Linked DNA regions of Homo sapiens: region 2 is linked to region 1. Evidence: fine-mapped expression QTL. A gene starts in region 1. The other region holds a variant in brackets. All regions are shown on one strand. Distances are between the middles of the regions. Region 1 holds the start of PTCSC3 (papillary thyroid carcinoma susceptibility candidate 3). Region 2 has its middle 38 kb from the start of PTCSC3.

Evidence for each region. PIP is the estimated chance that this variant, and not a neighbour inherited with it, causes the effect.
Region 2: its variant is fine-mapped to the expression of PTCSC3 in lung (TOPMed, PIP above 0.99).

Annotation. Positions count from the first base shown.
Region 1 is chr14:36,174,282-36,179,668 of GRCh38, forward strand. PTCSC3 (papillary thyroid carcinoma susceptibility candidate 3) reads right to left here and starts at 2,441. Exons shown (of 4, transcript NR_049735.3): 1 at 2,017-2,441.
Region 2 is chr14:36,212,076-36,217,462 of GRCh38, forward strand. No RefSeq gene overlaps it. Among named protein-coding and RNA genes, the nearest start is that of PTCSC3, 38 kb to the left of the region's middle. The variant G/A (reference allele first, on the strand shown) is at 2,498.

The DNA of each region.
Region 1 (5,387 bases):
ATTCAGGCATGTCTATTGGTTTGTATCTAAGTTCATTGACTCTCTATGTTAAGTCTGATCTGCTGTTAGGCTCAATTTTTATTTCAGTTACTATACTTTTCAGTTCTAGAATGTTCATATAGTTGTATTTGTAGTTTCCATTTATCTGCTGTTTTCCATTTGATTACTCATTAAGATCATATTTTTGAGTCTTTTAATGTGATTTTTATTTGTATGTCTAGTGATTAAATAGTGAACACTGTGGACAACACACTGTAGATAGTCTAGATTCTGTAGTCTTCCTCTAAAAATGGTTGTTTCATATTTGAGGTGGCAGTTCATTTAATGGCTTATTACTTTAACTTGTGTAGACTTAGTGTTTTGCATTGCTAGTATAGATCTGTGGACAGTCCAAGGTGTTTTCAAGATCTTCTAACCTTTCAGTAGTCACTTTCCAAACTGTGTCTCCTGTATAAATCTTGTCGGGGTTTGGTTTCAGGCTTTGTTGGGGTGAGTCTAGAGTTGGTCTTTCTCAAGGGGCATATTCCTTAATCCTAATATGTGCACTTTGTGGTGTCTCAGAGCTGGATGTCAGGAGTTTTAACAAGATGTTAATAAATCTCTCCTCTCTGGCAGGGCCAGAACTCTGACATCTCTGCCACTGCTTTTCCCCAAGCACTGCTCAACCTCTAGAATCTTGGTTCCACTTTCAACTGCATAGCATCTGACATCTAGTAAAGCTCGGGTCGCCTCACACTGCACATGTACAATCCAACTCTCAGTCACTGATTTGCAGGAGATCCCTGCTGGATTCTGGGGTCCTCTCTCTCTACATAGCTCCCTCCATTCAGGCTCCATAGTTTCTACTTGCTTCAGTTACCCTGAACGCTGATGTCTGCCTCCCCAGCTCAACAGGACTGCCATGCTCTGCTCAGACTCCAGGTCTCTGTACCATGGTCAGGAAATTGTCTCCAGGCACAGAGCTGAGGCAATCATGTAGCTTACCTCATGCACTTCCCTTCTCTCAAGGAGCACAGCCTTACAGTGCTTGTTATCCACTGCCTGAAATCGGATGCTTCACATATTCTGTCCCGTTTTAGAGTAGTTTTGGGCTAGTACAGTATCAGTCATCCCATTATGGTTAGAGATGGAAGTTCAGGAGTCAGTATCTTGATTTCAACCCTACCTGAAATCACATTTCCACGTTGGGAAGAACATAAGAACCACAGCACTTTCTATGAAATGTCATAAAATAGGTCCCAGCCAGTTGCAAAAACTCAAAAGTTCATGTGGCTTAAAATCATATAGGCTATGCCTAGCAAAATGCCCGATATGCCCGACAGAAGCATGTAGTTTTATAAATTATTAAGTCATTTGCTGGATACAGAAAGAAAGGAGGAAGAACCCACTCCTTAGAGTTATGACTTATCTACCAATTAACTCTATGATCTTGGGCCTACAGCTATATTTAACTTGTCTTTGGGATCACTGGAGTAACTTCATTGAACACTAAGAAAACCTAGTTAGAAATTTGTATTTGTAATTTGCTTTGATTATGTCCTCTGAAAGATACTTTCCAAAATGAGACATGATTGTTGTGGTTTTCTTCCAGAATTAAACAGGTTTCCAAGTTGGCAACTGGGATGACAACTTGGGAGGGCTTCTCCCAATTTCAGAAAGAGCTTTATTCCCATAAGTGTATTAAATTCATGTAGAAAGAAAAGAACCAACAACAGAAGACAAATGTGGGTAGCAAATAGCAGTTTGGGAGTGTCAAGGAGGTGGGAGAAGGACTTTCAGTTAAGAAAACGATACAAATACATACATATGTACATAATGTCATGTGAGTGATTAAACTGTCCTTTCTCCAGAGAGCAATATTAAGGTTTTCAGAGGCCAAAACAGTATACTAATGCAATATAATTATACCTTTGGGTGAAACATCAAAGATGCAATGAGTGAGAGCTAAGGAGGCTACAACCCAGCTGAAATGCCATTATTTAATGAAAGACCAACAGATGCAACAAGAACACTTACCACCATGGTCTAGTGTTCCCTCTCAGTGCAGTCTTAAGCCTAATTCCTCTTCTGCTTGGCCTTTGACCTGGTCTCTCCAGTTGACTTTTCCACAACAGTCTTCACTCACAGGCAGAGTAGAAATGGGATGCAAGAAAAACAACAGGTCCCAGATCACTTTTTTCCTCTTTCTCTATTCCTCTTTCAGTTATGAATTCTGTTTTGCTTTGGAGAAGAAAAATGCGATCCCCCTGGATATTTTTTCTGGGCCATCACCAATTTATCCTGTTCCCCCTACCCACCCCTGCCAGTATTTTATACTTTACTCTTCAAAAACTTGAGATGTCTTGAGTACTGAGAAGTCTGAAGGAGTTTGTACTGGGGCCTGGCCTCCGATATTTCTGCTGGATAAGCTATTCCTTCATGCCTGACGGTGAATGTGCGTTATGGACTTGCCCAAGGAATTTCTGGAACTGGGCCTGCAAGTCTGTTTTAGATTAATGCAAATGGGATTTGGGGTAGCTGTGCCTACAAATATCCTGCAAAGATATTTTGTATCAAAATGACAATATTAAGATGAATCAACTCAATGAAGTCTTTGGGTACCGCAAAAATGTTGAATGTTGCATAATCACTTTCTGTTGATCTTTTTCTTATTACTATTATATGTGAATATACACGAGGCTTCCTGCCTTCATTGCCACAATTTAATGGGACAAACTGCAGGCACACAGTCCTTCCTCACTTTCTGTGCCCATTTCTCTGACATACATCATTGCTGAAGTCTGTTGTTTAAGCAGTGAAAAAAACATGTAATGTTTCATATAAGGATTATCCATAAAACCCCAAAGTCCTTAACTCTTCTGTCCTTCTGAGGCCATCCTTTTCTTTAACAGCCATCCCCTAAATTGTGGGAAGTCTAACGTGTTCTTCAATTTTCCAGCAGATTCTAGAGTTGAGACTTGGTTCTTCCCATTTTTCTCTTGCTCCTGACTTTTTCAATTTCTTCCCTCCATCTGCCCACTGCCTTTCCAGGCTGCCCCAGCCCATTCTAGTTTGCTTTGCTTCAAAATATGGACTCACCACCCTTTTCTTCATGATAATGCTCTTGTGATTAGCAGTGTGTTATTGTATTTTCTTGTTTTATATGAGCAATGTAGAGGAATGATAGCACAAAACATGGACTGACTTAAAATTGAATCCTGGTCACACTATTGCTAAAGTTTTCTGAAGTCTCCCCCTCGAGGAGTCCTTACTGGTGGCACTCTCAACTGGGTATTTCTGGGGCCTGCTCCCTGGACTCTAAGAAAGCTTTTTGTTTTCAATGTCTCTCTCTCATGGTCTGACCTTCCTCAGCCCTGCAGTGGTGGGTGGAACCCACTCCAAAATTCCTGTGACTTGATGGTGCAGAGAAACTTGGCTCTCTTTCAGGCTGACCCTCTCCTACCCAGACTCTCCTGGGGTCCACCCCCACACTCAGAAAAGCCCACTGAATGCTTTCCCAACAAAAGAGCAGTTTGCTCTTTAAGAGGAATTCTGCCACCCTCTTAGAGCAACCAGTTAAAATGACTGTCAGCTTACAATTTTTAGTTATAACCAGAGTTTCTCTAAGTTTGCAAAATGTTTTAAATAAAGCAATTTGACAGAAGATTTAATAAGGTGATAGACAAAAATGGGGGGTCCTGTTGTCAAGAGTGGTAATTCTAAATGAGGCAGGAAAAGTTATGGATAGAAGAAAAAGAGTTTGTGATTTACTGTTTCTTCCAGTGACCTCCGCAATGTGTGGAAGAGAATAGGTTAGACAGGCAGCAATAATTATCTCACTTGTAGCTTCTCAAAACCTGGAAAATAAGGCAAGGTCTGGTGGCTCATACCTGTAACCCAGTCCTTTAGGAGGCAAAGGCAGGAGGATCTCTTGAAGCCAGGAGTTCAAGACAAGGCTGGGTAACATCAAGAGACCCTCTCTCTACCAAAAATAAGAAATTGGTCAGGATAGTTGTGCGTGCCTGTAGTCCCAACTACCCCAGAGGCTGAGGTGGGAGGATCACCTGAGCCTGGGAGGTTGAGTCATGATTGCACTATTGCACTATTGCCTGGACAACAGAGCAAGACCCCATTTCAAAAAAAACAAACCTAGAAAAGAAAGCTATTCTAAATTGAAGTAACCAAGGAGCAGAGCCATAATCCACAGAGAGAGACACAGGTTCAACAGAGGCTGTGGAAAAGCAATTCCAAGCAACTTCTCATATTCCAGGAACGCAACTGAGGCCTGGGGAGCCAAAAGGCTGCTCTCAGAGGCAGGCACATTCCAGGTGTCACCTTAGGATTCCACTCGGGACCATGATGGCCCTGGGAGGGAGGGGAATGGGCTTTGCAGACTTAGACTTGACTGCATGACATCTACATCTTCAATGTTATTCTACACTGTTTAATCGGTGTAATAAATGGAACTTCCAATATTACAATATTCTAACATTCTTCGAATATTACAATATTCTAACATTCTTCGAATATTACAATATTCTAACATTCTTCGAATATTACAATATTCTAACATTCTAAGTTCCATTATTTTGCCAATTAAAAAAACTGTGTGTTAAGAGTGCTTTTGTATTTCAGGGGTTCCTGAGGACACTGAGAAAGGGAAATATATCATATGGCAATATTCCATAAAATAAATTACCTGGAGACAGTATAAAAATTTGCAAGGATACAGACACAAGGCATGTAATTATTATAAATATATAAAGAATGTATGACTACTTTTAGATATAATCACCTAATAAATTTCAAGATTGCCTTATTAACTATCTATTTGTGTTTGTATACATTGTATCATTTAAAAATAGATATGAAATAGTACTTAACAATAAAAGGTTTGTAATAAGGTTTTTGGAATCAGAATAAAGAAAAACTTTTGTCCTACTGAGGATAAGTTGTTCAATACAGTGAAGTCACATGCACATGTCTTGCTTTGGATTTACTTTCTCCCAGTTCTTACAATATCACCAAATAACAAAAATTTCTACTTACGACTTTACTTTCCTATACGTTGTCAGTTGAATTATTTTTCTGTATATTTCCACAATGTGATAAATATTTTTCAGGTTTAGGAAAAAGTCATTTAAAGCTGTTAAAATTTAAAAAGAAATCTATTCATAGCATATACTTAGTCTAATTGCCTTAAGACTCTTCTGGGACATGTAGCAATGTAAAATGGTGGATGGATAGCGGTGTACGTCTTTTCAGCAGGATAGTCTTGCAGGATGGTGGTAAAAAATAGGCAAAGAGACATACACCAAATTTTTTTTTATGAAGAAGCAGCTGCAGATTTATTGCTTTTAAATATGTAAATTTTAATTAAATCACATGTACAAAGATAGTATATATTT
Region 2 (5,387 bases), 38 kb after region 1:
TGTCTGCTGATGAAATTTTTATTTTCTAATATGCTCATTAAATTTATTATTTTAAAATATCTGTCTTTTCTTGGGTTGGAGCCAGGAGTAGATGCATGTGTTTTGTCTGCCATCTCGATACACTTCCTCAGAGGGATGCTTATAAAATAATCTACATGTGGCCAGTTGGTTGTCACCTTACAAAGCAAACAACATACAGCTGTGTAAGGATTGTTAAGTAACCATTCTGTATTCTGGAAATCTTTTAATGATCAACAACAGTTTGATGTATAATATATTTTATAGGCCTCATTGTAAAGAAATGAATGTTGATACCCTAAAGTGCTGATTCAATCTCTCTCAAAGTGTTTTCCCTTCAAATTAGTGTTTGTCTGCTTATATTCTGTGCTTGTCTTACCTTGGGGATGATTTCTTAAAACAAATTATGAGGCACATTCTGGCAATAAGAAATTTCCTAAATGTGATGTTTAACATTGGTGCCTAGAAATCATAAGTTCAATTGACTGTATTTTGTTATTTTTTTTCTTTTGAATGGGGAAAGGGTAGAAGAATCTGTTTTCTTCACAGATGAAATTTTCCATTAAAGGAAGCTATTATATTTCCATATCAGTACACTTATTTTATACTCAACCTCTCTAGGGATGACAGCCTGTTCAGCAGGAAAGCCCTAAAGGTCATCCAATGACTAGATTGATACATTTCACGGAAAAATTGAGACTAACTTTCTTACTGTGAAATATAGAAACCTGAGTCATCATTACCATAAACTCATAGCAGATCTATAGTTACCTTTGAAATAAAAGGGGATTACAGGACATTCTTGTTTTGATGGTGGGCTCCAGTTTCTCATCCTCAAAAATTTGGTTCTCATATTAAAATACTATTAATACAAAAATTATGCCATATGAAGTGAGTATCCAAAGATTTCTAAATAAAACATGTACTGAAATTAGTAAAAATTTCTCATAGTGTTATATGGGATTAACGGCGATTTCACAAATGGGAATACCTTTTTAATTCTTTCTACTTATTTACCTATTTATTTGGAAGTACAGTATTACAAACTAGGGAGCGGCTAAGACTGGCTAAGCAATCATGCTGGAAATTATTGCATAGCTCAGCAAAATATCCTAAAAATAAAAATATGCCTTACTTTTATGTCCAGGAACTTTTTATTATTTCTGACTTAGAAAATGTTATTTCTAAATTTTTAATGCTAGTTATACTTCTTTCTTTTGGTCACCATAAGGCTTTCTAGCACTTTCCTCAAAGGAAGGGAAATTAAATAAATGGGTATAACTCAGTCCACTTTGGTGACAGCTTGTTTGTGAGCTCGAGTTTGGAGACAGAATAAATTGGACTATTTGCTAAAATGGGGTTTTAGGATTATTCAAGAGGAAACAATTTCATGTATGGCTTTTCACTCTGGTTAGTCTTTGATTGTAGATCCTACATTTATTACTGTGTAGTCAGTATGCTTACAACTGGGCATCCCAATGGCTAGGAGATAATGTGAGTCTCTGGACAAACACTCCTGCTGAGCCAGAAATGCTGTCAGAATTTCCTCAAAGAATGATCTCAGTGTTTGTCTTTATTCTGATTTCAATCACACGGTGATTTGTCAGGGCTTTATAAATGCAATTTAATCCTGTTCAATTTCCAAGGAGGGGTGAACATGCAACAAAATGAATTAACTAGGCCAATCATAATCAAACACTGCAGAAAGCCAGGCAGAACCCACCATATGCCAAGGGTGTATAGATCTCATCCTGCCTGGGAAAACTTGACACTCCGCCTGGTGCAGGGATTGGGAGGGTAACTGAGGGAGGTAAGGAGGTAGGATATCCCTTAGGGAAGGAGCATCACTCCTCTCAGGAGATCTGTTCCTATGACTTTCAACAAAGCACCACCGAATTGTCATTGTATTTTGTGAGTAGCTAAATTCTTCTGGGAATTAAGGAAAAAATTTGAAGTTGCCATGAAGGTAGCCTCTTCCCAATTACACCTTAGCTAAAGGTAGCACTCTGATTCTCTGAGGATAATTGGTCCATCTAATAAAATCACATTGAATCTGGAGCAATCCTGAGTGTTTTCTAAGCTCAAGCTAAGAAATGCTGCTTTCAAGGGGCAGCAGTACAGCATTAAGAACATGGTATGGCCCTGCGGGCTGGTTTTACTACTGATTACTTATGTGACCTTGGGTGAGTGACTTAACTTCAATGAGCTTTTGTTTTTTTTTTTTTTCATTTGTAAAATGCAGATAATACCCTCATGGTGTTGATGTTGAAATTAAGGGAGACAATGAAAGTAAAGTGCTTAGTACACTGCATGGCATGTGGTAAATGCTCCATAAACATTCATGTTATTGTTTTCAGTATAAGCAGTCAAAAATACCAAAATTTTTCTTCATGCAACAAATATTTATTGTGCGTTTACTATATGCCAAACTTGCCAAATACTGGAGAATATTTGAAAAATACCTTATTCAGTGACCAAA[G/A]TAAGAATCTGCATCTCTGTTGTTGGCTGTAGATGGCAATTTCTGCTTCCTGGCCTTACTTCTTTAAAGAAAAAAATTTCCCATGCATTAGTCACTTAGATCAACCCATTGCCACATTTTTTTAGTGTTGAAAGCTAATATATTTTAGTAATGCTTCAATGAACTGTGGTAGCAACAAATAAAGAAATTGACTTCTGTCCCAAAATATGGGGAGTAGAGTTGTAATCAGGATTACAAAAAAAAAGGGGCCAGTATTACAAGCTGCTAAAATGCTTTTGCGTGGATTATTGTTTTATTTGGACCCCCTCCACCCTTTAAATCTGATACATGCTAAGATTTTCATGGGCACAGCCACCTCCTAATATGTGGTTTTGCTTCTCTGCAAGCATGGAATCCCCTCTGCAGTTATGTTTGCCTGTGCATCTCCGGCAGCTGGAGGACGAATCACATCAGGCTGATGAGTGTGTCACGCTCTTCATCCCCCAAGTGAGTGCACTCCCAGGCCCACCTTTCTGGAAAATGTTCTTTGGTGCAGGGTGCATGGTGGGCCAGGGAATTGTCTGGGCTTCCCATTAATCTCAGAGGATGGGAGGGTAATCCCTTCACAAATATGGGAATGGGGGCTGCTCTGAGGCTGGCAAATAATAAACAATGAGGGTTTCTTTTTTTTCTTTTTAATCCTGGATTCCTCCAGCCCTCCTCTCTGTAGTCCTCAGCAATAACTTAGCCCTTGTCTTCCTCTCTGAAGGATTTAAATGGAATGACCTTAATTCTCGCTTTGTTTGCACTCTATCTCTTAAGGAGCTGTGATGAAGACCAAGACAAACAGTAGATTAACAGTGCTACCTTTTATAAGGCTGATTAGTTCCTAAAATATGCTGAAAGGAAACAAAACCAAAAAGAAAAAAGAGTGGAAAGGGGGGTGAGACAGAAACCTTTGTCGGTGAGTTTGAAACAGCTCCATTTCTTTCATTAGTTGCAGATATTGACCTTCCGATGAAATATTTTCTTTGTGTGGGAAGGCTTTGCCAGGGTAGCATTTATTAGGCAGGTGCCTGGTAAGTGTTTCTAAGCAAATATTACTTTACTGCCTAATTTTGGTTTAAGGGGAGAGTTGTACCAGGGATGAATTTGGAAAACATTTGATGATGGTTCATCTGCCACCCCTTAGAGCAGGGGCTATCGAGTGGTTGACAGTATCCAAATCAGAATTCCAAAGACGCTGTTCCATCCGGAATCATTAAGAGGAACACAGCCTCTTAGAATCTCATTCAGCTCCTCTGGATTTGAAGGAATTTACAGAGAAACTTCCAAGACACCTCAGCTATATCCAAACGAAAGCCTAAGCATTATGGTTTGGCAGAGCTGAAAATGTGTCTCTGGAAAGAAAAAAAAATTATATAAAGCTCCACAGAAAATATTTCTGGGCATCAGCTTGTTTCCTTTGAGGGATGGGAGGTTGTTCCTGAAATTGTTCAATTTGATTTAAAGTTAAATAAAAATGTGAAAGACCAGGGTACATTAATAAGATGATCCACCTGCTTATAATAATAGGATAATTCACATCCTCATTGTCAGAGTAGAAAGGATCCCAATAAGGTCAGTCTTTAAACTCAGTATGTTTCATTCTTTGGTGCTGTCTCACTTAGATTCTCAGCGCCACTTGTCTGCCCTTCTTTTCCACTATGCACCTTTATTGCAAATTTAGTTCCATTAGGTAGATGCTTGCATCGTTATGAAGCCTGATTCCATCATTTTCAAAGTGCCAAGCCATTTGAATACGATACGGTCCTTGGTCATATTTAATCCAAACATTTACACACATCCAGCCCCTTCTTATCTTTTTAAATAGGATGCAGGGCTTATTTTTAAATTACATCCTCATTCATGCTCCGTAAAAGCATCAAGTAAAACCATCCATGGGATTTACATTCTGGTCCATAGTTGTTGCTTCCAATTCCTGGCATGGCCATTAAATCCTAGCCTCAGCATAATTCTCGGCATGACACTCTTGTGTCGAGGCAAAAAAGGAAAAACAGAAACAGCCATTTTTTTTTCTCTCCCAGAAATTAAGCTGCATGGAGGAGCACTGTAGCTTTTGCTTCCTTCCCTATGTATACCTAATTTAAAGGGCATCTTAAAATAAGGCTCCCCAGAAAAGGGATGTCAGTGGGAAGTTGAGGTGCTTGAAATAAAGCAAGTGCTTACTAAAAACGGATATGTGCATGATTTCTTTTATCACATGTCAATTAGATGTACATCTATTCAGGGGAGGTTTCTGTTGATATAATGAGTTTTCCTGTGACTTGAGTGCCATAACTGTCACCACAGCATCCCAAAAGTCCTGAGTCATCTGTGGTTGCCCCTCAAACCCTTGGTACGGTCTATTCCATGAATTCCCCCTTTCCCCCAACAAGCTCACTCTCCTATCAGCTTCTAGTCTCAGCTATTAGATTCAGTCATATAACAAGTACACAGATGCCCCAAAGCTATAGAGCCTTAGCTTGCTTTCTTCAATTTCTATGCAGTTACTGGCATCATAAGAAATCTCTTATCAATTTGGAAAGGCAATTGGAACAAACTAGTGTTTGCTTAATTAAACCCACACCCACACCCACACACACACACACACCCTGGTCTCCACCTACCTTGTCTCATTTTGTACTTAGAAACTCCTGATGGTGCACTGGGGGCTGCAGGGAGAGTCTGCATGAGATCCCCAAATGATCACAACTGTGCAATTGTCCTGGGTGCACTTCTCTGATAGGCTGCCATTTGTTCCCACTCACCTAGAGAGCTTGTGGATAGCCTGAGAGGGTTGAGCGTGTGTGTGCGTTTTAACAAATTTTCAAAAGTTGCCATGGGGAGAGAATAGAAAGAAAGCCCTTCA